Regions from separate parts of the Homo sapiens genome. Here all the other regions are linked to region 3. The links come from fine-mapping of genetic effects on gene expression. A gene starts in region 3. Each other region holds a variant in brackets. All regions are shown on one strand. Distances are between the middles of the regions.

Region 1 (4,075 bases), 21 kb before region 3:
TGTGACCTGGGGCAAGTGACATGGCTTCTCTGTGCCTCAGTTTACCATCCACAAAATGGAGATAACCGCTTCTATGTCACAGAGTTATCATGGAGTTAAATGAGAGAACTGAATTGCTTAAAATGGTATCTGGCACTTAGTGAAATTAGTAAGGATATTATTATTCTTCTAACTAAATTTTTAAAATACTACTGCTAATATTACTACTGTTATTTTAATTATTCTTGTTATTATCATCCAAGTTCTACCTTTTAACTAGTTCTCTGACTCCAGGTAAGTGACTATACCTCCCTGAGCCCCAGTTTCCTGAAATGGGTCTGGTTAGAAAACCCGACATCGGAGGGGTCCAGACGGTAGGAGGCCCAGGACCCAGTGGGTGTCACCTAACCCCAGGGGGGCACTGTCAGGGGACCCGAGGCACATCTGAAGGGTCCTGGCAGGGTGGCGAGATGCTGCTCACCTGCGCTCAAGCTCCCGGCGCACCCGCGCGCCATCCTGCACTGCGTCCTCCTGCTCTTCCTCCAGCCGGTCCCGCTGGCGCCGCAGCTCCTCCTGGGCAGCCTGCAGCTTCTCCCGCTCCTGCCGCAGCTCCTCGGCCTGCTGCTGGGCCACCTGCAGGCTGTGGGCCAGGTTGCTCTTCTCCCTTCAGGACAAGGGGAGGGGGAGCAGAGGGGATGCTGGGGCTGCTCTCTGCAGGGAAGGTGGCTGGCTGCTCCTCTAGCCATGAGCTACATCCTCCAGTCTTCCAAGGCACCTGCCTCCAGGAAGCCTTCCCTGACCACCCTGTCCATGGCTGACTCATTTCACTCACACACTCCAGCAGAAGAACCTGGCTTTCCTTCTCTCCAGTCCGCCCACTTGGAGTGGATGGAGGTGCTGGTGTGATCTCCAAGCACCCTACCAGGTAGAAGAGGCCGAGCTAGGCTCCTGGGACACACGGCAATTGTGCCACCAGCTCTGCTAGGCCATGTGACCAGGAAATGTCCCCTATAACACCCCATGCCCCTCAATTCTGGGAAGCCTGATAGAGCTGAGTCTGCAGATCCCACAGCTTCCTGCTACACAGGCACATGGTGGCCACGGCAGGGGAGGGAGGAGAAGGGAACAACTGGGACCCCAAAGACTTGCCATGAGCTGCCACGTTCCCCACTGGCCATAGGTGCGAAAAAACTTCACAGCGTGATTTTGTTTTATTTTTTTTTTTTGAGACGGAGTCTCGCTCTGTCCCCCAGGCTGGAGTGCAGTAGCGCAATCTCCACTCACTGCAAGCTCCGCCTCCCGGGTTCACGCCATTCTCCTGCCTCAGCCTCCCAAGTAGCTGGGAATACAGGCGCCCGCCACCATGTCCGGGTAATTTGTTGTATTTTTAGTAGAGATGGGGGTTTCACTGTGTTAGCCAGGATGGTCTCAATCTTCTGACCTCATGACCTGCCCGCCTCGGCCTCCCAAAGTGCTGGGATTACAGGCATGAGCCAATGCGCCCAGTAATTTTTTTTTTTTTTTAGACGGCATCTCACTCTGTCGCCCAGGCTGGAGTGCAGTGCACGATCTCGGCTTGCTGCAACCTCCACCTCCAGAGTTCAAGCGATTCTCCTGCCTCAGCCTCCCAAGTAGCTGGGATTACAGCCATGTGCCACCACGGATGGCTAATTTTGTATTTTTAGTAGAGACAGGGTTTCTCCATGTTGGTCAGGCTGGTCTCGAACTCCCGACCTCAGGTGGTCCTCCTGCCTCGGCCTCCCAAAGTGCTGGGATTACAGGAGTGAGCCACTGTGCCCGGCCAATTTTTTTTTATTTTTAGTAGAGATGGGGTTTCGCCATGTTGGCCAGGCTGGTCTCAAACTCCTGACCTCAAGTGATCCACCCGCCTTGGCCTCCCAAAATACTGGGATTACAGGTGTGAGCCACCTCGCTCAGTCGACAATGTGCTGTTAAGTAAAAATAGCAGAATGCAAAATGGGATGTTTGCTGTGAACACAACTGCTTAAAAAGACCTTCTCCTTTCCAGGCATGGAAAGCTTGGGTTTACTCTCACATGGACCTGAATTCCAGTTCCCACCCTGCCACCCCCAGCCACACACGCTGTATGAGTCTGAGCCAGTCTCTCAAGCTTACAACAACAGAGTTCCGAATTGCATGAGTTTGACAGGAAGACTAAATCACAGAGTACATACAAAACACTCGGCCAAGAGCCTGGCACACAGTAGGTGTGCAGGAAACGTTTGCTATCTCACTGCCAGGCAACACAATGGGAAGGAAAACCAGTGCCCTAAATGAATTAGGATGGGCAGATGAGGCTGTGAGAAGGCGCTGTCTTTT[T/C]ATTCCTATTTTTCAAACTTTTCATTAGATGGTTACATTTATGAAGAGAAAAACCAAACAACAAAATATCAAAAACAACCTGGCAGCTAAGAAGTGGATAATTTCTTGTCTTAAAAATCTTCAGGGTGCCTGGCGTGATGGCTCACACCTATAATCCCAGTACTTTGGGAGGCCGAGACGGGCTCAGGAGTTAGAGATCAGCCTGGGCAACATGGCGAAACCCTATCTCTACAAAAAACAGAAAAATTAGGCAGGCGTGGTGGTGTGTGCCTGTAGTTCCAGCTACTCAGGAGGCTGAGATGGAAGGATCACTTAAGCCTAGGAGGTGGAGGTTGCAGTGAAATGAGATCGCACCACTGCACTCCAGACTGGGTGACATAACAAGACCCTGTCTCAAATTAAGAGAAAAAAAAAATCTTCAAGGCTAGGCATGGTGGCTTATGCCTCTAATCCCAGCATTTTTGGAGGCCGAGGCAGGGGAATCACTTGAGGCCAGGAGTTTGAGACCATCCTGGGCAACACAGCAAGACCCCATCTCTAAAAAAAACTCCAAGAAATACAGTCCAAAATAGTGCTGGCAATAGAACTCGCTGAGATGACAGAAATGTTCTATGGCCATGTATGGTTGATGAGTGCTTGAAATGTGGCTAGGGCAACTAAAGAACTGAATTTTTTCTTTTTTTTTTTTTTTTGAGACGGAGTCTTGCTCTGTCGCTCAGGCTGGAGTGCAGTGGCGCCATCTCGGCTCGCTGCCAGCTCCGCCTCCCGGGTTCAGGCCATTCTCCTGCCTCAGTCTTCCAAGTAGCTGGGACTATAGGTGCCTGCCACCACGCCCAGCTAATTTACTTTTTGTATTTTTAGTAGAGACGGGGTTTCACTGTGTTAGCCAGGATGGTCTCAATCTCCTGACCTCATGATCCGCCCGCCTTGGCCTTCCAAAGTGCTGAGATTACAGGTGTGAGCCACCGGGCCCAGCATTATTATTATTATTTTTTTTTTGAGATGGAGTCTCGCTCTATCTCCCAGCCTGGAGTGCAGTGGCACGATCCTGGCTCATTGCAACCTCTGCCTCCGGGGTTCAAGTGATTCTCCCACCTCAGCCTCCTGAATAGCTGGGATTACAGGAGCATGCCACCATGCCTGGTTAATTTTTGTATTTTTAGTAGAAACAGGGTTTCACCATGTTGGCCAGCAAGCTGGGTGTGAGCCACCACACCCAGCCTGAATTTTCACTTTTTAAAAATTTTAATTAAATTTTAATAGAGCCAGGCACAGTGGCTTATGCCTGTAATCCCAGCAATTTGGGAGGCTGAGGTGGGAGGAGTGATTGAAGCTAGGAGTTCAAGACCAGCATGGGCAACATAGTGAGACCCCCATCTCTACAAAAAATTTAGAAATGTTGGCGGCTTGTCTACTATCCTCGAGGCTGAGATCAGAGTTGCCCAGGAACCCAGGGAGGTGAGGGCTCAGAGGGTGGTGAGGGCACAGAGGAAGGGAGTGGAAACCTAACTCTCAGGCTTCGGTCCCATATCCTTCCCCAGGCCAGGCCCAGGCCCCCAACTAGGGGCAGTTGGGAGGTAGAGGTGGGAGGATCGCTTGAGTCTGGGAGTTCCAGGTTACAGTGAGCTGTGATGGACCAATTGTGCCCCAGCCTGGGAAACAGAGCAAGAGTGTGACTCAAAACAAAGCAAAACAAAACAAAACAAAACAAAACTGAATACTAAAAAATAAATGTTGGCCGGGCGCGGTGGCTCAT
Region 2 (4,075 bases), 36 kb before region 3:
TTTGTTTCTGTTTTTTTTTTTGTTTTTTGTTTTTAATAGCTTGACAGCAGCTTATTAATCACATGTACTCACAGCCCTGGGGGGTGGGGGAAAGGCGGGGAGGCATACCACACGGGGCCACACGGGGGCTGTGGGCTGCACTTGAGAACACAGTGAACAGCCAGGAAGGTTAAGTGCCCACTGGTTCCAAAGGGAGCTGTGTCCAGAGGCTGTTCCCTTAACCACTAGGCTACATTGCCGCCCTTGCCCATAATTTATCAATAAATTTGCACACAATGGGGGCATGCACTAAAATATCATTTCCTGATGGGATGCATGGTCACACAGACACAAAGCCACCCCTGCCATTTAGAGAGTCAACCTCTCACGGTCACCAGTTTCACTGGAAACCCATCTACTGAGCAGCTGGTTGCCAGGACCTGTGCCAGGGCCCTTCATACATGCTCGGCTGTGCTAGCCCATCTCTCATGAGCGCTCTGAGGCACAGAGATGACGTGACTTGGTTCAGGCCACACAACAGATTCATGGCAATGAAACAGCCGGAAAAGGCAGAGCGGGTAGCCTGTGGGCTTTGGAGTCAGACAGACTTAGGTGGCTGTGTGACCTTGGGTAGATCCCTCGACCTCTCTGAGGGCTCTGTAAAATGGGGCTAATGGTAGGAAGGGTGTGGTGGCTCACACCTGTAATCCCAGCACTTTGGGAGGCCGAGGCAGGTGGATCACCTGAGGTCAGGCGTTTGAGACAAGCCTGACCAACATGGTGAAATCCTGTCTCTACTAAAAATACAAAAAATTAGCTGGGCGTGGTGGCAAGCACCTGTAATCCCAGATACTCGGGAGGCTGAGGCAGAAGAATTGCTTGAACCCAGGAGGCGGAGGTTGCAGTGAGCCGAGATGGTGCCAGCGCACTCCAGCCTGGGCGACAGAGTGAGACTCCATTTCAAAATAAATAACTAAATAAAAAGGGCTAACAGTACCTACCCCATAGGGCTGCTGGGGAAATCAAACAAGGTTGTATCTACAGGGCCTCTCCCTACCCATTTTGTGCCGGCACACAGTAGGCCCACTGTTCTTTGGGTTGTTGTTACTACAACTGGGGAAGAGTCTCAAGGAGTGGGGGAAGGAGCAAGCCCTAGGGAGTGGCCTTTCAGAATGGCCCCAGCATTGGGGTGCCCACCTGCTTCCTGCTGGGGGAAGGAAAGATGCACCAGCCTGCCCGCCTGCTCAGTTACCTCCTGCCGCATCACCTCCAGGCTGGCCTCGCCCTTCAGCAGCCTCTGCCGGAGGCCCAGGGTCTCCCGCCTGCTCTCCTTCTCTGCCCGCTCGCCCAGCGCCAGGCGGCCCTGCAGCTCCGCCAGCTCCCGGCCCAGTCTGGTGTTCTCACTGTCCAGCATCTTCATCTGTGAGAGCACGGGAATGGCAGCAGGTTCAGCTCTGCCCCTGTACCCTCCCAGTTCTGGCCCAAGGCCACTTGGTACCTACTGCTGTAGGGACACATGTATCAAATACCACCCCACATCCACTGGGAGCCGGCCCCTACACAACCACACTGAACTTGGGCGATGCCAGGCACTTGGGCACCAGTGGCCTGTTTACCACTTAATCAATGGGCCAAAACTACCTTTCATAAAGGGGTGGGTATAATAGAAGGAGGGCTCAGCCCTTAGCAGACCAGGAGTTCACAGGCAGGAACCACAGCTCCCTGGGTTATCTTTCCCCTCTACGATGGCGATGAACGTTTTTGGAGCGCTTACCATGTGTCCAGTCCTGTTCTAAGCACTTCAGTTATATTAACTCGTTTAATCTTGGTACAATGCTATATGAGGTAGGTAGTAACATTATCCCTATCTAACAGATGAGAAAACTGAGCCTCAGAGTGTCAGAGTAACCTCCCCAAAGTCACACAGCCCACACACACCAGACTGGGATTCGATCTGAGACAACGGCAATGTTCTAAGCCCCTATTTCCCCACAGGAGCAGGG[A/G]GGGGTACTGCCTACCTCCCCCATGTGCTACAGCAGGGGTAACAGGAGAGGCCGTAGCATGCAACGCGTCCAGCAAAAGCTGGCACGCAAATGCCAGCTCCTTTCCGGGAGTCTTGTGGTTTCTCAGGAAGGGGCCTGGGTGAAGGGGGCTGTGGTATCTCTGGCTATCAGAGTATCAGAATATCTCTGGCTATCCAGTTGTGATCTCTTTTTTTGTAATTAAAAACAATTTTTTTAATTAAAAAAATTTGGGGGGGCCAGGCATCGTGGCTCATGCCTGTAATCCCAGCACTTTGGGAGGCCAAGGTGGGTGGATCACCTGACATCAGGAGTTCGAGACCAGCCTGGCCCACATGGTGAAACCCTGTCTCTACTAAAAATACAAAAAAATTAGCCAGGTGTGGTGGCGGGCATCTGTAATCCCAGCTACTTGGGAGGCTGAGTCAGGAGAATTACTTGAACCCGGGAGGCGGAGGTTGCAGTGAGCCGAGATTGCGCCACTGCACTCCAGCCTGGGCAACAAGAGTGAAACTCCATCTCAGAAAGTAAATAAATAAATAAAATAAAAATTAAAAGTTTAAAAACTTTTTTTAGAGTCAGGGTCTTGCTTTGTCGCCCAGGCTGGAGTGCGGTGATGCGATCACAGCTCACTGCAGCCTTGACTTCCTGGGCTCAAGGGATACTCCCACCTCAGCCTCCCAAGTAGCTGGGACTCCAGGAGCGTGTCACCACACCTAGCTATTTTTTAAATTTTTTGTAGAGACTGGTTCTCACTATGTTGCCTGGGCTGGTCTTGAACTCCTAGGCTCAAGCAGTCCTCCCAACTTGGCCTCCCAAAGCATGAGATTAAAGGCATGAGCCATCACAGCTGGCTAATTTTTCGTATTTTTAGTAGAGACAGGTTTTCACCATGTTACCCAGGCTGGTCTCGAACTCCTGGGCTCAAGCAATCCACTGGCCTCCGCCTCCCAAAGTGCTGAGATTATAGGTGTGAGCCACTGCGCCTGGCCTGGTTGTGATATCTCTGGGTGAGGCAGCGCCTAGGGGCTGAATGAGGCCATTTCCTGTTCTTTGCATCTTCTAGAGTGAGAAGCCTGAACCCACAGTGTCCAGGCCAGTGCCCAGTAGACAGCAGGTGCTTCTTCAATACATGCTGCTGTTGAGTTTGCAGATCATCGAATTCACGGGTCAGCGAACTACAGCTCACAGGCCAAATTCAGCCCATCTCCCGTTTCTACAAGGGTCTGAGTTAAGGATTTTTTTTTTTTTTTACATTTTTAAATCATCGAAAATGGATCATTTCTAAAGGAAGAACAACATTTCTTGACACATGAAAATGACAGAAAATTCACATTTCAGTGTCCCTAAACAAAGTTTTACTGGAACCCACACCCCTCTGTTCATGCACTGTTTGGGACTGCTTTCTCACTACCCCAGCAGAGTCAAGTAGTTGCAACAGAGACTGTGTGGCCCGTAAAGCTGGAAATATTGACCATTTGGGCTCTTTACAAAAAACCATTTGCCAACCTCTGACCTAGTTCACAAAATCTGTACCTTTTGTTGTTTGCAGATTCCTTTGAGAACTGGACAAGGACACCAGCTCCTCTCCTTGCAGAAATGTGAGCCTGAGTGTGCACACAAATGCACGCAGACTTTTGCACAGTTTCAGGGATTCAAGGACTCCTCAAAGCCCATCCATTCACACCAAGGTTAGGTGAGAGGGCTTGTCATAGTTCAAGCCCCTGGTTTTACATAGGGGTAGAAACGTAATTCCAGAAAGGGGGAGCTATTGGCCCGGGGCACACAGCAAGCCCCAGGCTAAGGGGTGGCACAGGGAGAGTACCTGACGCCGGAGCTCCTGCAGCTCCCGCCGAGCCTCCAGCCGTGAGCGCTCCACCTCCTGCAGCCCAGTTCGCAGCTCCCCGGCCTCCTTGCCCACAGCTGTCCGTGCCTCCTCTAGGAGTGCCAGCTTCTGCTCCTTGTCCTCATTGGCAAGCTTCAGGCTGGAGAGGGCAGAGGTCAGGGGCTGCCCTGGGTCCTGGGAGTAGTCAGTGGCTCTACACAAAAGCCGTCTCCTCCAATTTCTGGAGTGG
Region 3 (4,075 bases):
GAATAGTAGTAACCAGATCCTCCCAGAAAAGCATCAAAGCCTCGCTCAAGAGAAGGGCTTCATGGAACTTTAAAGGCTAGGGCTCAGGAGAGCATAGCATAGGTCAGGTTGTGAGGAGAAGGAGAAAGAGAGAAGAGGGAAAGAAAGGCCAGCGGGAGAAGCGGGGTTGTCCACCTCCTGTGGGTTCCCCTTCTACCCTGGGAGAACTGGACATACACCCCAGGTGTCAGGGTGAGGGCCCTCTGAGTCTCTCCCTGTCTGGGGCTCCAGGGCGCCAACATCCCTGGCGCTCCCAAGGAGGGGGCCCGTCTGTAGCTTGGGAGTTGAACACAGACAATGGTTAGAGCACCAAAACGCCACACGCCAGCACACCAGCTGCAACTGAGTGTGCCTTTCCCAGATCCTCAAGCCACATAACTACACCGTGTGCGCCACCCACTGAGAGGAGCAGGGACCATCCGCCTTCCTGCCCACGTGGGAAACGGATGGACGGCGCCATCCACTCAGACTTCCGCAAAACCCTGGTCTGAGCTGAGCTGCCCTCTTCCTGTATCTTGGGTTCAGCCAGCTCACACCTTCCCCGGGTGGGAATACGGGATTTGGGGTTCACATCTCTGCAGCAGGCTACAGGCAAGCACGCAGGAGATGCTCGGCCCTTCCTTCTAGTTGCACCACATGCGGAATAAGTCTGGACAAATTACATCCCTGAGCCTCTGTTTCCTCATCTGTAAAATGGGTTCTTCTGTCATAAAGCTGTGCCTGCCCCACAGTGAGTTACAGTCATGATCATCATGGTGACTGCTCAGGAAAGGGACATGAGAAGAGGTAAAATGTGGGTGGTGTTTGTGGAGGGGAGCGGATGGGGGTGGCACCTGGGCTCTCAGGCTGGGAGAGGTTGCGGGTGACAATCTCCCTGATAAGGGCAGGCAGGCTGGTGATCTGAGCGTCCTGGGCCAGGTCCCGCGCGCCCAAGCCTTTCTCCTGGCACAGGACGCTGCTCTCCAGTGTCTGTGGGAAAAGCGAGAGGGTCTTCAGGGGACATGGGACCCGGGGCTCCCTGGCCTCGTGGGGAGAGCCACAGAATCCTACTGCCCAAGATACAGGTCCCCAGGAGCCCCCTCAAGATGGAGTGAAGCCTGGGAGTTAGAATCCAAAAAATCCCCATGCAAAGAGCCTCTTGTGTGCTCACTGCCCCAGGAAGAAGGCCCAGGGCCAGAGATGAGAACCAAACCCTACGGGTAACTCCCAAACCCCACTGGAGGCAGTCCAGTGTTGGGGGCCCCAATCCGGTTCCGACCCTAGATGGATGAGGATCTGGCTATGCCAGAGGTCCCCCAAGCCCTAAAATCTGGCAGTAGAGACCCCCTTCTCCCAACCCAGGGCACTGGGATGAGGGAGCCACAGCAGGTGCACCCTGTGTGTACCTCTGCCCCCCATCTTGCCAGGAACTGCAAGCGGGGGGCCCCTGTATACCCCACCACCACCACACCTCTCCCACCCCTTGATCCCCAAGACGCACACACCTCTCACCACTCCTGTTAAGTCCACGCTGCCCCGCCCCAGACAGGGTGGGCACAGCCCCCAGGACCCACCTGGATAACCGTCTCTAGTGTCAGCTCCACCTCCTGTGCCCCCGCCAGCCCCAAGCTCATGGGGGGGAGGCTGTGGGCATGCCTCCAGCCCCCTTCTCCAGGACCCCAAGACTAGCTCAGTCAGCACGCGCCACAGCCAGGATGCTGTGCTGAGCACCAGGCAGATTAAGCTTAAATCCGGCGGCGCCCCCATGTGACCACCGCGGTGGGAGGAGCAGGATGTGGGCTGAGGAGGGAGGGGATGGGAAAGGACAGGAGAGGAGGGAAGCAGAGGCAGGGAGCCAAAGGAAGAGGAAGGATGAAGAGAGGGGAGGAGAAGGGAGAGAAAAGGAGGGAGGAGAGAGAAGAGGGAATGGGAGGAGGAAACAGGGGAGACACCTGGAGGTCAGGACCTCACACACTCTTCACCCTGCGCAGGTTGCTGGGTCCTAGAGCCCTCCAAGCCCAGGGGGTGGGGTCAGTAGCCATGCGGCGGGAAAGGCCAGAGTCCTAAGTATTTGTGACCATCTTTCTGGCCCAGAACGGGAGTCACATGGTTAGCTAAGAATGAGAGGATTTACAGCATGCTGGGAGTATGTTTTCCCACAACAGGTGTAGGGCAAAGAATGCAGGCTGTGAGATCACCCAGGCCAGGCTTGGCACTTAGTTGGGCATGAGCGGTCCAGCCTGGACTGATGAGCATTTATGCAACACCTGCGGCATTCCTAGGTCTGACCTAGACACAGTGGTAGAGCCTCGAACTACAAATGCCCTAGCCTTGCCCTTCAGGCACTTATTGGGAAGCTTCTGGCCCCTTCACACCCACCCCAGCCCCCACTAGCTGGGTGCACCAGGGACACTGACTTTGCCTCTCTGAGACTCAGTGTCCTCTTACGTAAGATGTGATAATATTGGTACTCATCTCTCGGAGCCGTCCGGGGATGAAACAGTATCGTGTGTGCATACCCAGCACATGACATGGTGCTGGGGGGTCACGTGGCCAACACTCAAGAAATACTCATTTCATTCATTTGAAAATCCAGAAGGTACAGTCCCAGCCAGGCGCAGGCACTCATGCCTGTAATCTCGGCATTTTGGGAGGACAAAGCGGGTGGATCACCTGAGGTCAGGAGTTCAAGATCAGCCTGACCAATATGGTGAAACCCCGTCTCTACCAAAAATACAAAAATTAGCCGGGTGTGGTGGTGCACACCTGTAATCCCAGCTACTTGGGAGGCTGAGGCAGGAGAATCGATTGAACTCAGGAGGCAGAGGTTGCAGTGAGCCAAGATCGCGCCATTGCACTCCAGCCTGGGCAACAAGAGTGGAACTTTGTCTCAAAAAAAAAAAAAAAAAAGGCACAGTCCCTATATCCCAGGGCCCTGAGACCCAGAGGTCACCCACCACCTCCCATTGTTCTTTCCCTGGGGCAAGGAGGCTATGTGCTCTAGTGCTTAGGCGCACAGCTCTGGAGTCAGTATCAGGTCTGAGGTTGCATGTGAGACTCAGCTCTGTCACTTGCAACTATGGTGTTCAAGACAGTAAGACCTTGAACAGGTTACCTCCCTGAGCCTCAGTTTTCTCATCTCTAAAAGGAGACTAAACCAGGCCAGGTGCAGTGGCTCAAGCCTCTAATTCCAGCACTTTGGGAGGCTGAGGCGGGCAGATCACTTGAGGTCAGGAGTTTGAGACCAGCCTGGCCAACATAGTGAAACCCCATCTCTACTAAAAATACAAGAATTGGCCTGTAATCCCAGCACTTTGGGATGCTGAGGCAGGCGGATCAGGAGGTCAAGAGATTAAGACCATCCTGGCCTACATGGTGAAACCCCGTCTCTATTAAAAATACAAAAATTAGCTAGGCATGGTGGTGCACACCTGTAGTCCCAGCTACCTGGGAGGCTGAGTCAGGAGAATCGCTTGAACCTGGGAGGCAGAGGTTGCAGTGAGGCGAGATCATGCCACTGCACTCCAGCCTGGCGACACAGTAAGACTCCGTCTCAAAAATATAAATAAATAAATAAATAAATATAAAAAAAATTAGCTGGGGCGTGGTGGCATGTGCATATAATCCTAGCTACTCAGGAGGCTGAGGCAGGGGAATCACTTGAACCCAGGAGGAGGAGGTTGCAGTGAGCCGAGATTGTGCCACAGCACTCCAGCCTGGGTGACAGGGCAAGAGTCTGTCTCAAAAAAATAAAATAAAATAAAATGAGACTAGACCGAGTGTGGTGATTCAGGTCTATAATCCCAGCACTTTGGGAGGCCAAAATGGGAGAATCGCTTGAGCCCAGGAGTTTGAGACCAGCCTGGGCAACATAGCGAGACTCTGTCCTACCAAAAACAACAAAAAAATGCGACTGATAGTACCTACCACACCTGGCAGGTGGTGAGCTATTAGCCAATGGGGGCCACTGTTCCTATTGTCATTAGCATCACGTGTCTGGGCTCCTGCCCTTAGAGTTGTAAGCCCTAAAAAAGGACAGGAATTGCTCACTCGAGGA
Region 4 (4,000 bases), 790 kb after region 3:
GAGCCACTGCGCCCAGCCTGCAATTTTTTTTTTTTTTAGCTCATCACCTGTTGTTAGTGTTGCTGTATTTTATTTGTGGCCCAAGACCATTCTTCCATTATGGCCCACAGAAGCTGAAAGATTGGACACTCCTGCTCCAGAGCCGCTTCTGAGCTCTGTGACTGTGGGCAGGTTACTTAACCTCTCTGGGCCTCAATGTTCTCCCCTGTAAAGTGGGATAATAATTGAGAATTGAGACTGGGCGCGGTGGCTCATGCCTGTAATCCCAGCACTTTGGGAGGCTGAGGTGGGCAGATCACCTGAGGTCGAGAGTTCCAGACCAGCCTGACCAACATGGAGAAACCCCATCTCTACTAAAAATACAAAAAATTAGCTGGGTGTGGTGGCGCATGCCTGTAATCCCAGCTACTCAGGAGGCTGAGGCAGGAGAATCGCTTGAACCCAGGAGGTGGAGGTTGCGGTGAGCCGAGATCGCACCATTGCACTCCAGCCTGGGCAACAAGAGCGAAACTCCGTCTCAAAAGAAAAAAAAAAAAAGAAAGCATTCAGCAAAAGTTAGTTCTTCTTCTTCTTCTTCTTCTTCTTCTTCTTCTTCTTCTTCTTCTTCTTCTTCTTCTTCTTTTCTTCTTCTTCTTCTTCTTCCTCTTCTTCTTTCTTCTTCTTTTCTTCTTTTCTTCTTCTTTCTTCTTCTGTCTTCTTCTTCTTCTTTTTTTTTGAGACGGAGTTTTGCTCTTGTTGCCCAGGCTGGAGTGCAATGGCACAATCTTGGCTCACCGCAACCTCTGCATCCCGGATTCAAGTGATTCTCCTGCCTCAGCCTCCTGAGTAGCTGGGATTACAGGCATGCGCCACCATGCCCAGCTAATTTTGTATTTTTAGTAGAGACGGGGTTTCTCCATGTTGGTCAGGCTGGTCTCGAACTCCCAACCTCAGGCAATCCTCCCGCCTCGGCCTCCCAAAGTGCTGGGATTACAGGGGTGAACCACCACACCTGGCCTTTTATTATTATTATTATTATTATTATTATTATTTATGCACTCGTAAATATGGGGCACCTCTGATGTGCCAGCCCCTGTGATGGGGCCAGGGTGGAGGCCTGGGGCTCTGGCCCTGTGCTCTGGAGCTGAAAGTTTAGGATCCTAGGTTGGGATCTAAAGAGCCTGGGAGCTGGGCGTGGTGACCACGCCCATAATCCCAGCATTTTGGGAGGTTGAGGCAGGAGGATTGCTTGAGCTCAGGCATTTGAGACCAGCATGGGCAACATAGGGAGACCCCATCTCTACAAAAAATACAAAAATTAGCCAGGTACAGTAGCATGTGTCTGTAGCCCCAGCTATTCAGGAAGCTGAGGCAGGAGGATCACTTGAGCACAGGAGTTCAAAGCTGTAGTGGGCCGAGATCATGCCACTGCACTCGAGCCTGGGTGAGAGAGCGAGATCCTGTCTCAAAAAAATGAAAGAATCTGGGCTGTGGAGGATGTGGCTCCACGTCCACTTGTCCCCCCAAACCCTGCCTGCTCGTAGGCAGCTTCTTACCCACTTCCCCCACTGCCTGTCCTGCCCAGAGCCCCCCAAGGTGAGGCTGGAGGGCCGCAGCACCACCTCGCTTAGCGTCTCCTGGAGCATCCCCCCGCCGCAGCAGAGCCGAGTGTGGAAGTACGAGGTCACTTACCGCAAGAAGGTAACTCCCAGAGGGGCGGGGCTGGCTCTAGCTGGGCCGACAGCAGGGGACAGGCTGGTCACATAGATGATCACCAAACCACCCAGCCATCTGAAGAAGCACCCTTCTGCAGATGGGGAAACTGAGGCCTGGGGTCTGCCAGGGGGTTA[C/T]ATCTCCCAAGGCAGCACAGCAGAGATTTGTACGAGAGAAGACATGGCGTCCTTGGAAGAGGCAGTCAGGGTGAGGACAGGGGCAGAATTTTGGGACCCCACACACTCAGTTTGAGTCCTGGCTCATGCATTTAGTGGTTCTGACCTTGAGTGAGTCACTTAATTCCGAGCCTCAGTTTCCTCCTCTGTAAGAAGAGCCTCAAGTTTGCTAACAAAGGCAAGCCACCTTGCTAGCTTGGGGTGGTCTCCAGCGGGCTGAGCCGAGGCCCCTGCCCTGCCCTCACTGCCTGCTCCTCCGCCGGCCACCCACCCACAGGGAGACTCCAACAGCTACAATGTGCGCCGCACCGAGGGTTTCTCCGTGACCCTGGACGACCTGGCCCCAGACACCACCTACCTGGTCCAGGTGCAGGCACTGACGCAGGAGGGCCAGGGGGCCGGCAGCAAGGTGCACGAATTCCAGACGCTGTGTGAGTTGGGGGACCCTGGGCATGGACCAGGCCAGGGCCCAGAACCAAGCAATTGAGACATCTTGGGAAAGGAAGTGAATCAAATAACTTAGAAATGCCCCTTTCTCGGTCACCGGCGGCCTGGGACAGCCCTTCGGGGACTGCCCCCAAGCCTGGGGAGGGGGAAGCATGGAAGGCTGAGGGGTGGAGGAGCCGGGATGTGGATTCACGACAGTGGTGTGAGGAAGTTCAAATCCGCATCTCAGAAAAAGCCAGAGCTTTGAGCCCCACATACCTGCAATACCTCCCGTGAGACCTTCGGGAAGGCCTCCGCTTGACCGTCTATGAAATGGGACTAAGTACCCTCTGGAGCCTTCCCAAGTGCAAGCACCCAGCACACAGTAGGGGCCCAGGTGTCTTGGGTGCAGCGCGGGTGTTGCTGTAATTTGTGGGGGAACTCCCTTGTCATCAGCTGATTTCTTCCACCAGCCCCGGAGGGATCTGGCAACTTGGCGGTGATTGGCGGCGTGGCTGTCGGTGTGGTCCTGCTTCTGGTGCTGGCAGGAGTTGGCTTCTTTATCCACCGCAGGTTCGTCAGAGCCCATACCCTGGCTCCACATGGGCTTGGGTGGGAAAATGGGGCAGGAACCTCCATTTCCTCATCTGAACGATGGGGCCCACAGGATGCTAGTCGAGTCTAATCCCTGCCTCCGGATGGTGCGAGGATATACGAGTTAGAGTGTGTAGCGAAGTGCCTGGCACGCGGCGGGGCCGGGACACGGGGGTCATTACCTCTGCTCTTGTTGTTATTAATGATGTGTCCACACTTCCTCTGGACACGCAGGCAGGAATCCCCGAGTAGCTCTAATGGGAATGCCTTCGTCACGACTGCTTAAGGGGCCATTCTGGGGCCTAGATCCTGGAGAGGGAGTCCTGGCTCGCTCACTTCCTCCCTGTTCCTCCACCCGCCTTCTCCGCACCCTCGGCCCTGAGAGTGGAGCTTGGGCAGCAAAAGCGGGGACTGGGCCGCATTCTGAGCACCCCAGGTCCTCCTAGGACCAAAGTAGGGCCAGGAGGCTTCCCTGGCCGGAGCAGACCTCACTGACCTCCCTGCATTTGGTTCCCCGTGGGGCTCTTTCAGGAGGAAGAACCAGCGTGCCCGCCAGTCCCCGGAGGACGTTTACTTCTCCAAGTCAGGTGAGACGCAGCCCCCGCTCCAGGCCCAGCCCTGCCCGCACCGTCCCCAGCTCTGTGGGGGAGGTGGGGGCAGCCAGGGTGTTCCCAGGGCACTGGGGTGGGGCCACAGGCTTCCGTGGGCAGCTCTGAGGGGTCCGTCCCCCACAGCCTGGTCCAAGTCTCTGAAGATCACGTGACCTTCTCCTCTGACTCCAGAGCACCCCCCATGGGGCCCCTCCTGAGCTGCCTGTGACCCCACCCCTTCTCCTTCCAGAACAACTGAAGCCCCTGAAGACATACGTGGACCCCCACACATATGAGGACCCCAACCAGGCTGTGTTGAAGTTCACTACCGAGATCCATCCATCCTGTGTCACTCGGCAGAAGGTGATCGGAGCAGGTGAGGTTGGCCCCCTGCCAAGGGGCCCTGAGGAGGCAGCGGTGGTGACACAGTGTGGGAGCCCTCATGCCGGGGCTGACCAGGGCACTCCCCTGACCCTGTCTGCCCACAGGAGAGTTTGGGGAGGTGTACAAGGGCATGCTGAA
Region 5 (4,075 bases), 400 kb after region 3:
AAAATGTGGTCCTACACAAAGAAACGAATATTGGAAATGGCATTTAGAAAGCATGTACTACACGTTTTCTTATAATTTAAATCTTTCAAAAAATATTTGACGTAACAAATAAAAGTAATAATAATGAATCACAAAGGTTATAGTGCATAAAGTAAAGATACATAACACTAGGATAAAGGCCAGAAAGGGAGGCATAATGACACTAGAAAGCAGACTATGATAAATTAAAGATGTATTCCGGAAACCCTAAAGCAGCCTCTGAAATAAGAAAACGGTTATAGCTAATAAAGCAACAAAGGAAAGAAAACGGAATGAAATAAAAGCTATGTAAACACTATGCTGGAACAACTACTCTCCAGGCCTCCACCCTATAGAAATACACCAGTGGCCAATGAGAGTGTACAAGAATGATGACTGCAGCATTACTTGTAATCATAAAATGATAAAACCAACGTAATTTTAAAGATATAGGAAAAGGGTTTTATTTATTTAACGGACAGACAATTGAACAAGCAAACAATGGGAGCAAGTCCTTTGCCAAAAGGAACACAGAGGGTCATGATGATGCTACTCCTCCAAGGATTTCAGAGTTCCCAGACGCCTAGTTTTCTGTCTAGTTCTTCTGGAAGATGTTATTCTTGGGGAGCAATAGGTCCTCGAGTTTGGGGCTCTTTCAGGTTCTCTCTCCATTTCCCCATTCTACTACAATAAACAAACAAACAAACAAAACAATTCTCACTTCCAGAAGATCCTGCCTGTGCCCCTTCATGAGCCTTTCAGGAGGTCTGGATGTCTGGTCCACCGCTCCCCGGCTTCTTTCCCAGCTTTTGCTTTTTCCTTTCCCAGCTCTTGACCTACCACCCCACGGCCGCACCACCGCCCAGCTGAGCCCCCGTGGCTCCACCGCGCAGAAGGTGCGCCAGAGACCCTGCCAGTTGCCCTCCCTGCCGGGTGCCGAGAAATCAACGCTTTGTAAAAAGAACTTCCCCGTGGAAAAAATCTCTTGATTTCCACTCTCAGGGCTCTTCAAAGGACTAAAAGCTAAAGGCGACGATGAATTCATTCCACAAGTCCTAGTCGTGCGCCCTGGTGAGTACCAGACCCTGCTCCCCGCGAGGGGACCCACGAGCGACCCTCACCACCATCCCTGCCCTGGTGGAGCCCCCGTGCGGAACACAGGATCCGAAGATGGCAGCGGAAGCTCCTCAGCGGCCCGGAAAGCGACTGGGCAGGGTGGGCACAGGCTCCTTCAATGGGTGAAGGCGGCGCAAAGAACGGGAAGAACCATCCCAGGAGCCCACAGGGCGTTCAGCTTCCCTTGGGGCCCCAGGCAGCTCGGGCTGGGTCGCCCACCAGGGAGTTTCTGGAAGCTTCTGCAGCAGGCGAGGGGCAGGGCGGGCGAAGGCAATTCTGCTGTTCTTCTGGCTCCAGAATCTCCTAACACGCAGGCGTCCAACGTGACCGGCGCGACTCACCGCTCTAATCTCTCTGGTTTTCCAAGGCCTTGCTCAGTGGTCCTGCCCGGTGGGCCCTGAGAATAGACGGAACGGAGGAAGTTCAGTGAGTGCGCCCTTCCTAGATGCCCAGTAGAGTTGGAAGCGCTTGTCTCTGTGGCGCAATCGGTTAGCGCGTTCGGCTGTTAACTGAAAGGTTGGTGGTTCGAGCCCACCCAGGGACGCTTATTGGAACTTTTGAAGCATTCACGCAATGTCAATCACTAGATAAATGGGGAAGATTTTATCTTCCCAAAGTCTCAAGCCACTAATTTATGACAGATCCATGTCAAGGGCCGCCCACCTCCCCGACCAGATTCTTAGCCGGCTATCTCCTGAAATGCCGGGTTTACACCTGTGTCACTAAGGAATCCTGAAACAGAGACCTAGGAACCCACTTCTGATGTGATAAAATTCTAATTCAGTCCGTTATACGCTTAAACGAGTATTTACGTGTCTCCATTTTTTCATATTTTAGTAATAGGAGTCCAGTATTACCTCCAGGATGTGCCTGGGTTTCCTGATTGCTCTATCAATAATGTGACCAGTGGAATCATTCATCATGAAAGTGATTCTCTCCATCATTTTTGAAAATAGTATTTTTCCTCAGTTTATGCATGATTTATTTAACCCTTTTCAAAATGTTTTTGTTAGCCAGGTATGGTGGCATGCACCTGTAATCCCAGCTACTCGGGAGGCTGAGGCAGGAAAATCGTTTGAACTTGGGAGGTGGAGGCTGCAGTGAGCTGAGATCACACCGCTGCACTGCCTG[G/T]GTATCAGAGCGAGACTCCATCTCAAAAAAACAAAATGTTTTTGAGATGACTTTAGTTTCATAGTTTTAGGATTACAAAGAATGCTGCAGTCACCAGTCCTGTACAGATATCTTTGGTCATTGTGGAAATGTTTACCCTGCAGACATTTCTATAGTGTAGAGAGCTGGATGTGCCATTGCTACATTATAGTGCTTGTATAATGCTTCTAATCTGAGTCCATTCTGCAAATGTATCTTTCACGGGAGCAGTACCAAATAATATTCCAATATGAATGTTTATAAGAGGAAAAATGTGCAGATGTGCAGTTGAGCTGCGTGCCTCTCCATGGGGCTCATGTTCATAAAATGGTGGCGTTAGCAATCATCTGAGAGTGGAGTTTGTGGCCCTCTGACGTCAAAATCTGAGGCAATGGACATGAAAACCCTCACTGTACATCCTCTGTAGTCTGGCCAGAATGATTCCTAGGTCGGTGGTCTCTTATCAGGAGGGAATGCTGCTTGCTTGTTTTGTCAAAACCACAAAAGGGAGGGAAAGCATCAGGCTGTTGGTTGATAACAGCAGTGAAGCAAGTCTCTCCAAAGGCTTGGATTGTTAACCCTTAGGAAAAAAAATCCTAATTCTTGCCAGATGGTGCCGTGCATTTCCAGGCTCTTGGTGTCCCAAACAAAGAACTGTACATGACACACACAAAGCAGCAAAGCAAAGCAAAATTTATTAAGCACAGTAACAGTCTCAGAGTGGGGAGAGTGGGCTGATCTCTGGGATGTGAGATCAGTATTAGTTTGGTGTACGTTGGGTCTTTTTATGTGTGTTTCTTTCTCTTCTCTTCCCAAGGATGCCTAATCGTTAGCCAGTGTTTGCCTTTTGATTGATAGGTGGGTTGCTTAGTTACTTTGGCCCTTGTGTGCTTGCACATTGCCTCCATCCCATAATTTTAAGTACATGCATGATGTGCAGTCCATATGCATGAGTTTTAATGAGCTGATTATCATATGGAGTCATGTTAAGGATACTTTTTTTCTCTAATGCACATGCCTATCTCTGAGGAGCTGCCCCTTTACTGGTTTGGATCTCACCGGCCATGGGGTCCTGGCTTGCTTTTCTTTTTTTTTTTTTTTTTTGAGACAGAGTCTCGCTCTGTTGCACAGTCTGGAGTGTAGTGGTGCAATCTCGGCTCACTGCAACCTCTGCCTCCCGGGTTCAAGCGATGCTCCTGTCTCAGCCTCCCAAGTAGCTGGGAGTACAGGAGTGCACCACCACGCCCAGCTAATTTTTTGTATTTTTAGTAGAGATGGGGTTTCGCCATGTTGGCCAGGCTGGTCTCAAACTCCTGACCTCAGGTGATCTGCCTGCCTTGGCCTCCCAAAGTGCTGGGATTACAGGCATGAGCCACCGTGCCCAGCCTTGCTTGCTTTTTTAAATCTTACTTTTTGTTTTGGCTGCTCAACTTCTGCCTTATATCTTGCTTCTTGCTCTCCCACCCCATCACCTTGCTTCTTTCTCTGCTTTCACTCACTCTGCCTTTTATCCAACTTCCAATTCCCTCTGCTGTTCTCCTGCATCATAATGGCAGTTAGTGAGGGGAGGGTTTTGAGGTGGCATGTCCAACCTCCTAGCCTGCCACATCCAGAAACTGCTTTCGAAGTTTCTCTGTGGTCCTGTCAGCCAAGAGGGAGTCCATTCAGTTGGTTGTAGGGCCTAGGGCTTATTTTTATTTCTCAAACCTGACAAGATAAAGCTGGATTAATGCAGATTCTCTGCAGGTGTAAATTTCCCCTACAAAAGACAGTTTTGCAGAGTTCCTTCTGT
Region 6 (4,075 bases), 42 kb before region 3:
GCCTTTCCCAACAGCCCTCAGAATCAAGCCCAACTTCTCTGCTATAGCTTAGGGGTCTTCTTGCCCATCCCAGCTGAAACCCTCTCACCCTTTACAAACTGGCCACCCTGCATCTCCCATGTTCTAGAACATTCTTTGTCCCAGCTCCAGGGCCTCTGTACATGCTGCTCCCCTTCTCCCCATGGCCTCTCTTTGCCTGGCCCATCCTTTAGGGCCATCCCTCTCCCTCAGAGGCCTCTCTGGCCACAGGCTGGATTACAGTGAGCTCATCCCACCCTCAGCGGGGTCTGATGTCTGCCACCCCCACCCCGACCAGGAGCACCATGAGGGCTGGGCCTCGTCTCTTCCATCCACCACTGTTCCCAGGGCCCAGTGCAAGGGTGGTTGCTGCATCACCTCAAGTCTCTCCATACTGAGTGCCCACTGTGCTAGGCACTTCATCTTCACAACAACTTCCTGACAGGTAAGGAACAATTTACCCTCTTCCCAGGCAAGGCTGGCACAAAGCAGTTAAGTGATTTGCTTGTTCTGTTGACTGGGTGTGGTGGCTCACACCTGTAATCCCAGCACTGTGGGGTCCGAGGCAGGCGGATCACTTGAGGTCAGGAGTTCAAGGCAAGCCTGGCCAACATGGTAAAACCCCGTCTCTACTGAAAATACAAAAATTGGCCAGGTGCGGTGTCTCATGCCTGTAATCCCAGCACTCTGGGAGGCCAAGGCAGGTGGATCACCTGAGGTCAGGAGTTCGAGACCAGCCTGCCAACTAGTGAAACCCCATCTCTACTAAAAATACAAAAATTAGCTGGGCGTGGTGGCATGCACCTGTAATCCCAGCTATTCGAGAAGCTGAGGTTGGAGAATTGCTTAAACCCGGGAAGCGGAGCTCGCAGTGTTCCTAATCGAACCGCTGCACTCCAGCCTGGGTAACACAGCGAGACTCCGTCTCAAAAAAAGAAGAAAGAAAAGACTGGGAGCAGTGGCTCACACCTGTAATCCCAGCACTTTGGGATGCCGAGGTGGGCAGATCACGAGGTCAGCAGTTCGAGACCGGCCTGGCCAACATGGTGAAAACCCGTCTCTACTAAAAATACAAAAATTAGGTGTGGTGGCGGGCGCCTGTAATCCCAGCTACTCAGGAGGCTGAGGCAGGAGAATTGCTTGAACTGGGACCTGGGAGGCAGAGGTTGCAGTGAGCTAAGACTGCACCATTACACTCCAGCCTGGGCAACAGAGTGAGACTCGGTCAAAAAAAAGAAGAAAGAAGAGGAAAGAAAAGAAAAGAAAGTAAGGAAGGAAGGAAAAGAAAGGAAAAGAAAAGAAAAGAAAAGAGAAAAATTAGCTGAGCATGGTGGCCCACGCTTATAGTCCCAGCTACCTGGGAGGCTGAGGTCTGGAGGCTGAGGCAGGAAAAGCACTTGAACCCTGGAGACAGAGGTTGTAGTGAGCTGAGACTGTGCTGCACTCCAGCCTGGGCAACAGAGAGAGACTCTGTCTCAAAAAAAAAAAAAAATAAAGAAAAAAGAAAAGAAAAGAAAAAGAAAAAAGTGGGCCCGGCACGGTGGCTCAGACCTGTAATCCCAGCACTCTGGTGGGAGGCCGAGGCGGGCAGATCACCTGAGGTCAGGAGTTCAAGACCAGCCTGGCCAACATGGTGAAACCCCCATCTCTACTAAAAATACAAAAAATTAGCTGGGTGCAGTGGTGCACGCCTGTAGTCCCAGCTACTCAGGAGGCTGAGGCAGGAGAATCGCTTGAACCCAGCAGGCGGAGGTTGCAGTGAGTCGAGATCGCGCCATTGCACTCCAGCATAGGCAATAGAGCGAGACTTGGGCTCAAAAAAAAACAAAAACAAAGTGATTTGGTTGTTCTCAATGCTGGGAAGTTTCAGGGCTGAGATGGGAATCCAGGCAGCCCGACTCCCTGGCAGCACTCCTGCTTGGAGTGATGGCCCGGGGAGGTGGAGGGGGCAGGGCGGGTGGAACCAGGGCACTACCTGGAGGCTGGCACTGGAACTGCAGGACACGGGTCCTGCCATGAGCATCCTGCCTTGGCCGCAGAGGGACACCAAAACTGCTCCGCAGCCATGAACTTGGTCACCACCCAAAAGGCCTCGCTCAGAGGTTCCCAAAGAAGCAGGCCTGCCCCTGGGGGCCTCCAGCTCTAGAAGGTCCCATCGTCTCAGGGTAAAAGTCCCCGTAGAGGCCTATAATGTCTATTGGAGCAAGCCCTTC[G/A]TCCCCAAATCTCACCCCCCTGCTTGATGCTCTGGGACTGCTGGCCCCTGCTGTCCACAGGACAGGCGCACCTCCACTCAGGACCTCCCTACTCGCCCCGAGTCCCCCTCCCAGCTGCTCGCTCACGTTCTCCCCTTACCCATCACCTCCTCAGTGAGGCACCTGCTGCCCCCGCATGAACTGCCCTAGCCCCTACCTTGGCTTTGCCCAATTTTTTTTTTTTTTTTTTTTCTGAGACGGAGTTTCGCTCTTGTTGCCCAGTCTAGAGTGCAATGGTGCGATCTCGGCTCACCACAACCTCTGCCTCCTGGTTTCAAGAGATTCTCCTGCCTCAGCCTCCCGAGTAGCTGGGATTACAGGCGTCTGCCACCACACTTGACTAATTTTTTGTATTTTTAGTAGAGACAGGGTTTCACCATGTTGGCTAGGCTGGTCTTGAACTCCTGGCCTCGAGTGATCCACCCGCTCCGGCCTCGCAGAGTGCTGGGATTACAAACATGAGCCAACGTGTCTGGCCATTTTCATCATTTTTAAGTGTACAACTGAGCGGCATGAATTACATTCACACTGTTGTGCAGCCATCACCATCATCTGTTCCCAGATCATCCCGACTGGAGGTCAGGAGTTTGAGACCAGCCTGTCCAACATGGTGAAACCCCATCTCTCCTAAAAAAAAAAAATATACATATATATATATGTATATTTATATACACACACACACATACACAAAAATTAGCCAGGTGTGCCGGGCACAGTGTCTCATGCCTTTAATCCCAGCACTTTGGGAGGCTGAGGTGGGCAGATCACGTAAGGTCAGGAGTTCAAGACTAGCCTGACCAACATGCTGAAATCCTGTTTTTTTTTTTTTTTTTTTTTTTTTTTGAGACGGAGTCTAGCTCTGTCGCCCAGGCTGGAGTGCAGTGGCGGGATCTCAGCTCACTGCAAGCTCCATCTTCCGGGTTCACGCCATTCTCCTGCCTCAGCCTCCCGAGTAGCTGGGACTACAGGTGCCTGCCACTGTGCCCAGCTAATTTTTTTTGTATTTTTAGTAGAGACGGGGTTTCACTGTGGTCTCGATCTCCTGACCTCGTGATCCGCCCACCTCTGCCTCCCAAAGTGCTGGGATTACAGGCATGAGCCACCGCGCCCAGCCTTGAAACCCCGTCTCTACTAAAAATACAAAAATTAGCCAGGCGTGGTGGCACACGCCTGTAGTCTCCCAGCTACTCAGGGGGCTGAGGCAGGAGAATCACTTGAACCCAGGAGGCAGAGGTTGCAGTGAGCCGAGATCGTGCTACTGCACTCCAGCTTGGGCAACAGAGCAAGACGCCATCTCAAAAAAAAACAAAAAGAATAATTAAAAACAATACAGTGTAACAAGTGTAAGATTTCCACTTAGCTGTATTTGGTATCCTAAGTAACCTAGAGATGACTGAAAGTATGTGGGAGTATATGGCAGGATGGAAGCTCAGAAAATCAGATAAGGAGTCAAAGGCATTAAGAGCCCTCCAGCCCCCGGTCCAGGAAAGGCACGGTGGCTCACGCCTGTAATCCCAGTGGGAGGATCGCTTGAGTCCAGGAGTTCAAGACTAGCCTGGGCAATATGGCAAAACCCCATCTCTACTAAAAACACAAAAATTAAGCAGACATTGTAGTGCACACCTGTAGTCTCAGCTACAAAGGAGGTTGAGGTGGGAGAATCACTTGAGCCCAGGAGGCACAGGCTGCCAAGGCAGAGGGAGCCAAGATCACACTACTGCACTTCAACTGAGGTGACAGAGTGAGATCCTGTCTCAAAAGTTGAAAAAAAAGAATCACCCCACTTCCCCAAAAAAATAAGTGGC
Region 7 (4,075 bases), 390 kb after region 3:
TCGCAGATCCAGGCATTTCCAGAGGCACTGGCTTCTGAAGCAGGCGAGGGTGAACGCAGGGTGAAGGCCATTCGGCCGCCCTTCTGGCTTCAGAGTCACGCAATGCACGCGTTTCTAACGTGCAACAACACGATTAGTCGACTCAGCCTCTCCGGTTTTCTGAAGCTTTGTAGTCTGCACAGTTGTCCCGCAGAAAGCAAATGGCAACTCCTAGGGTTTAGTGATTGCTTAATCTATATAGAGATGAAAGCAAGCGATTGAGGTTGTCTCTGTGGTGCAATCGGTTAGCGCGTTCGGCTGTTAACCATAAGGTTGGTGGTTACAGACCACCCAGGGACGTGATTTTAAACGTTGGTTGTGACCAGGCGCAGTGCCTCATGCCTATTAATCCCAACGCTTTGAAAGGCTGAAGTAGGGGAAGCCTCCACTGAGCTCAGAAGTTCAAGACCAATGAGAATCCCACCTCATTTAAAAAAAAAATGCAGTTGTATCTATCTCCTCAGACCCATCAATGTATTTAAAAGTGAAAGACTGTTCCCTTGTGTCTTGTGCATCCCATGAGGACAGACAGCAGAAGGTCCCCCTCCGAGCCTCCTAGAAAATGAGATCTCTGCAGAACAAACTAGCTTGTATGTACGGGAAACAGAAAGTATTTGAAGAAACAAACTTCAAAAATTCTGCCTTGCTTTCCACAAAAATTAACCCATCACAGTCTGCCTTCAAGTGGCATCATACCTCTTCACATGACTCCTCCCCCTGCCTTTATGCTATTGTCATGCATTTTACTTTACACCTGTTATAAACCTTACAATCCATCTCTATTACTTTTGTTTCAAGAGTCAGATGTGTTTTTGTTTGTTTGTTTGTTTGTTTGTTTGTTTGTTTTTGCTTTTTTGTTGCTGGTGGTGGTGTTTTTAAGACGAGTCTTACTCTATCGGACAGGCTGGAGTGCAGTGGCACAGTCTTGGCTCACTGCAACCTCTGCTTTCCGGGTTCGAGCGATTCTCCTGACTCAGACTCCTGAGTAGCAGAGATTACAGGCTTGCGCCACCATATATGACTAATTTTTGAATTTTTCGTAGAGAGGAAGGTTCACCATATTGGCCAGGCTGGTCTCGAACTCCTGACCTCAAGTGATCCGCCTTCCTTGGCCTCCCAAAGTGCCGGGATTCCAGGCGTGAGCCATCGTGCCCAGCTAAACAGTCAGATGTTAAAATTATATATTTGCCTATGTAGATGTCATTTCTAGTGTCTTTTTTTTTTTCATCCACATTTTCATCTGGTGTCAGTTTCCTTCTGCCTGGAGGACTCCTTTAACTTGTCTATTAGGTGTCTTAAACTTGCACTATCATTCACTGATGCTCTGTTCATTTAAAAAAAAAAACTTGTTGGCCGGGTGCGGTGGCTCACGCCTGTAATCCCAGCACTTTGGGAGGCCGAGGTGGGTAGATCAGGAGGTCAGGAGATAGAGACCATCCTGGCTAACACGGTGAAACCCCGTCTCTACTAAAAATACAAAAAAATTAGCTGGCTGTGGTGGCGGGCGCCTGTAGTCCCAGCTACTCAGGAGGCTGAGGCGGAAGAATGGTGTGAACCCAGGAGGCGGAGCTTGGAACCTGTCAAAAGGCATTCTTAGCCTTAAAAGAAAAGCCAGGGACATCCCTTGCCTCAGGACTCT[C/T]GAACTTAGAAAAACCTTTCACCCTCTATGTGGATGAATAACAAGGGACAGCTTCGAATGTTCTAACTCAAAGGCTGAGGAATTGCTTTGGACCAGTGGCTTATTTCTCTAAACAGCTAGACCAGGTGGCAGCTAGGTGACCAAGAAGCTTGAGATCTGTGACTACCATCACTCTATCGTTAGACGAAACCAGTAAGTTTACCTTGGGACAACAATTACATGCCATACCACCCCACCCCCACCCCCACCCCCTGCCACCCCATGAAGTACAGTACAGAGGGTCCTAGAGGCAAAAGTACACCAATGGCTAACAGGGGGCCAGTTACTTAAATATCAGACCCTTCTGCTTGACACCCCAGATGTTACCCTGAAAGTGTCCTGATTTTTAAACCCTGCTACTCTGTTGCTGCACCTCACGTCTCAAGAAACAGATCCCAAACTCATTGACTCCTGTGTGGAAACCACGGAAGAGCTCTACTCTAGAAGGCCCAACCTTGAAGACAAGCTCTTGTCTAACCCAAATGTTGAGTGGTTTAGAGATGGAAATAGCTATATTCATGAGGGAGTAAGAAAGGAAGCTTAGCCAACAAGAAGTTTTTGAGGCCAAGGGTTTACCTTCTCAGACTTCTGTTCAAAAAGCAGAATTAGCTGCTCTAATTAGGGCCTTCCAACCATGAAAAGACTTAAGCTGGACACGGTGGCTCACGCCTGTAATCCCAGCACTTTGGGAGGCCAAGGTGGGTGGATCACCTGAGGTTGGGAGTTCTATACCGGCCTAGCCAACATGGCGAAACCCCGTCTCTACTAAAAATACAAAAATTAGCTGGGTGTGGTGGGGGTCGCCTGTAATCCCAGCTACTTGGGAGGCTGGGGCATGAGAATCCCTGAGTTTGCAGTGAGCTGAGATTGCAGTGAGCTGAGATCATGCCACTGCACTCCAGCCTGGGCGACACAGCAAGACTCCGTTTCAAAAAAAGAAAAAAAAAGAACAAAACCTCAAGAGTCAATGTGTTGACTGACTCTAAATATGGGTTCCTGGTGCTCCATGCTCATGCAGCCATAGGGAAGGAAAGGGGACTATCAAGAGCCAAGGGATCCCCCACACAACTTTACTCAGATCTTGGAACTTTTAGATGCTGTCCAACTCCCAAAGAAATAACAATTACTCACCGCAGGGGACACCAGAAGGGAGACACTTTTATTATTAGAGGAAATTCCCTGGTGGAAAGAGCAGCTAAGGCCACAGCTAAGGAAACCCTGGTATTTCAGGCTGCTGCGCTACTACCAGGTACTCCATCCGTGTCAGTGACACCATAATATACCCCTAAGGAAATTAAAGGGACTGAGTAAAAGGCTTCCAGGGAGACCCATCTGGATGGTTGCTAGAAAAGAACAAACTCTATTCCTGAGGCTGACAGATGGGAAATAATTAAACATTTTCATGATTCCTCACATTTGGGACAGGATTTTCCATTTAAATTAGTTTCCTAAATATTCTTGCGGAAGGGACTGTTCCAAACTATAAAAAGGGTTACCACTCAGGAAGCCACCCCATACCCCGATCCCTGCTTAAACCTGTACAACACCAAGGAACATACCATGGTGAAGACTGGCAGACAGACTTAAACCAGATGCCACCTTACAGGGGACTACAAGATTTGCTAGTATTTATAGACACTTTCACCAGGTGGATAGAAGCTTTCCCCACAAGGACAGGAAAAGTATTGGAAGTGTCTAAATTCTTAAAGAAATCATTCCAAGATTTGGATTACCAAAAGGTTTGCAAGGTGACAACTGACCTCACTTTACAGCTAAGGTGACCCAGTGAGGTCATGCCTCAGCCTTAGGCATTACCTATCTTCACTCCTCATGGAGATCTCAGTCTTCAAATAACATAGAAAGCCAATCGCGACATTAGCAAAACTCTTTCAGTTTGGGGGCTTGCCTGCCCTGCGTCACTATCATTGTTTCCTTGGGTTTCCCAGGAATGTACATGTGTCAGACTGCCGCCCTGCTTATAGATCTGTTTCCCTGCAAGGAAACAGGAATATGTTGCCTGTGGCTTCCAGAGTTGGAGATACATGTAGTTGCACCCCTGAGGGCTAACATTTAATTTTGGAATCAAGTGATGCAATCAGACTGGTTGTTATCATTCTGTGGTATATATTTAGTGAACACATTCATGATTGAGTTTCCTGCTTTTAGCTGGAGCAAGAAAGTTTTATAATTGTGATTTGTATGAAAAAATCATAGGCAAGGGAATGGGTGTAAAATAAACTTTATTGTCAGAGGTTTCTACAGGCTCATCCTTCAAGGAAAACGGACGTATGCTGAAGAGCTGATAAACTGTCTACAGCAGTGTTATTCTAACCTAATCTTGATTCCAAGTTCTTGCCA

Evidence for each region.
Region 1: its variant is fine-mapped to the expression of CROCC in whole blood (INTERVAL, PIP above 0.99).
Region 2: its variant is fine-mapped to the expression of CROCC in whole blood (INTERVAL, PIP above 0.99). The same link has a PIP of 0.9 or more in T cells and prefrontal cortex.
Region 4: its variant is fine-mapped to the expression of CROCC in prefrontal cortex (GTEx, PIP above 0.99).
Region 5: its variant is fine-mapped to the expression of CROCC in whole blood (TOPMed, PIP above 0.99). The same link has a PIP of 0.9 or more in blood mononuclear cells.
Region 6: its variant is fine-mapped to the expression of CROCC in whole blood (INTERVAL, PIP above 0.99). The same link has a PIP of 0.9 or more in follicular helper T cells.
Region 7: its variant is fine-mapped to the expression of CROCC in lung (TOPMed, PIP above 0.99).

Annotation. Positions count from the first base shown.
Region 1 is chr1:16,940,668-16,944,742 of GRCh38, reverse strand. CROCC (ciliary rootlet coiled-coil, rootletin) reads right to left here. Exons shown (of 37, transcript NM_014675.5): 14 at 461-643. Among named protein-coding and RNA genes, the nearest start is that of CROCC, 21 kb to the right of the region's middle. The variant T/C (reference allele first, on the strand shown) is at 2,320.
Region 2 is chr1:16,955,907-16,959,981 of GRCh38, reverse strand. It overlaps CROCC (ciliary rootlet coiled-coil, rootletin), which reads right to left. Exons shown (of 37, transcript NM_014675.5): 25 at 3,826-3,985; 26 at 1,232-1,399. Among named protein-coding and RNA genes, the nearest start is that of MFAP2, 23 kb to the left of the region's middle. The variant A/G (reference allele first, on the strand shown) is at 1,983.
Region 3 is chr1:16,919,596-16,923,670 of GRCh38, reverse strand. It overlaps CROCC (ciliary rootlet coiled-coil, rootletin), which reads right to left and starts at 1,740. Exons shown (of 37, transcript NM_014675.5): 1 at 1,593-1,740; 2 at 873-1,008. The coding sequence starts at 1,652. RefSeq lists enhancers at 10-781, 782-1,553, 1,554-2,325, 2,326-3,098.
Region 4 is chr1:16,133,335-16,137,334 of GRCh38, reverse strand. EPHA2 (EPH receptor A2) reads left to right here. Exons shown (of 17, transcript NM_004431.5): 6 at 1,565-1,680; 7 at 2,146-2,299; 8 at 2,768-2,867; 9 at 3,420-3,475; 10 at 3,729-3,854; 11 at 3,967-4,000. Among named protein-coding and RNA genes, the nearest start is that of EPHA2-AS1, 20 kb to the left of the region's middle. The variant C/T (reference allele first, on the strand shown) is at 1,830.
Region 5 is chr1:16,518,188-16,522,262 of GRCh38, reverse strand. It overlaps TRN-GTT5-1 (tRNA-Asn (anticodon GTT) 5-1), which reads left to right and starts at 1,605; the gene lies at 1,605-1,678. The variant G/T (reference allele first, on the strand shown) is at 2,266.
Region 6 is chr1:16,961,573-16,965,647 of GRCh38, reverse strand. All of the region lies in intron 27 of CROCC (ciliary rootlet coiled-coil, rootletin), which reads right to left. Among named protein-coding and RNA genes, the nearest start is that of MFAP2, 17 kb to the left of the region's middle. The variant G/A (reference allele first, on the strand shown) is at 2,232.
Region 7 is chr1:16,528,662-16,532,736 of GRCh38, reverse strand. No RefSeq gene overlaps it. Among named protein-coding and RNA genes, the nearest start is that of TRE-TTC4-1, 4.7 kb to the left of the region's middle. RefSeq lists an enhancer at 1-483. The variant C/T (reference allele first, on the strand shown) is at 1,679.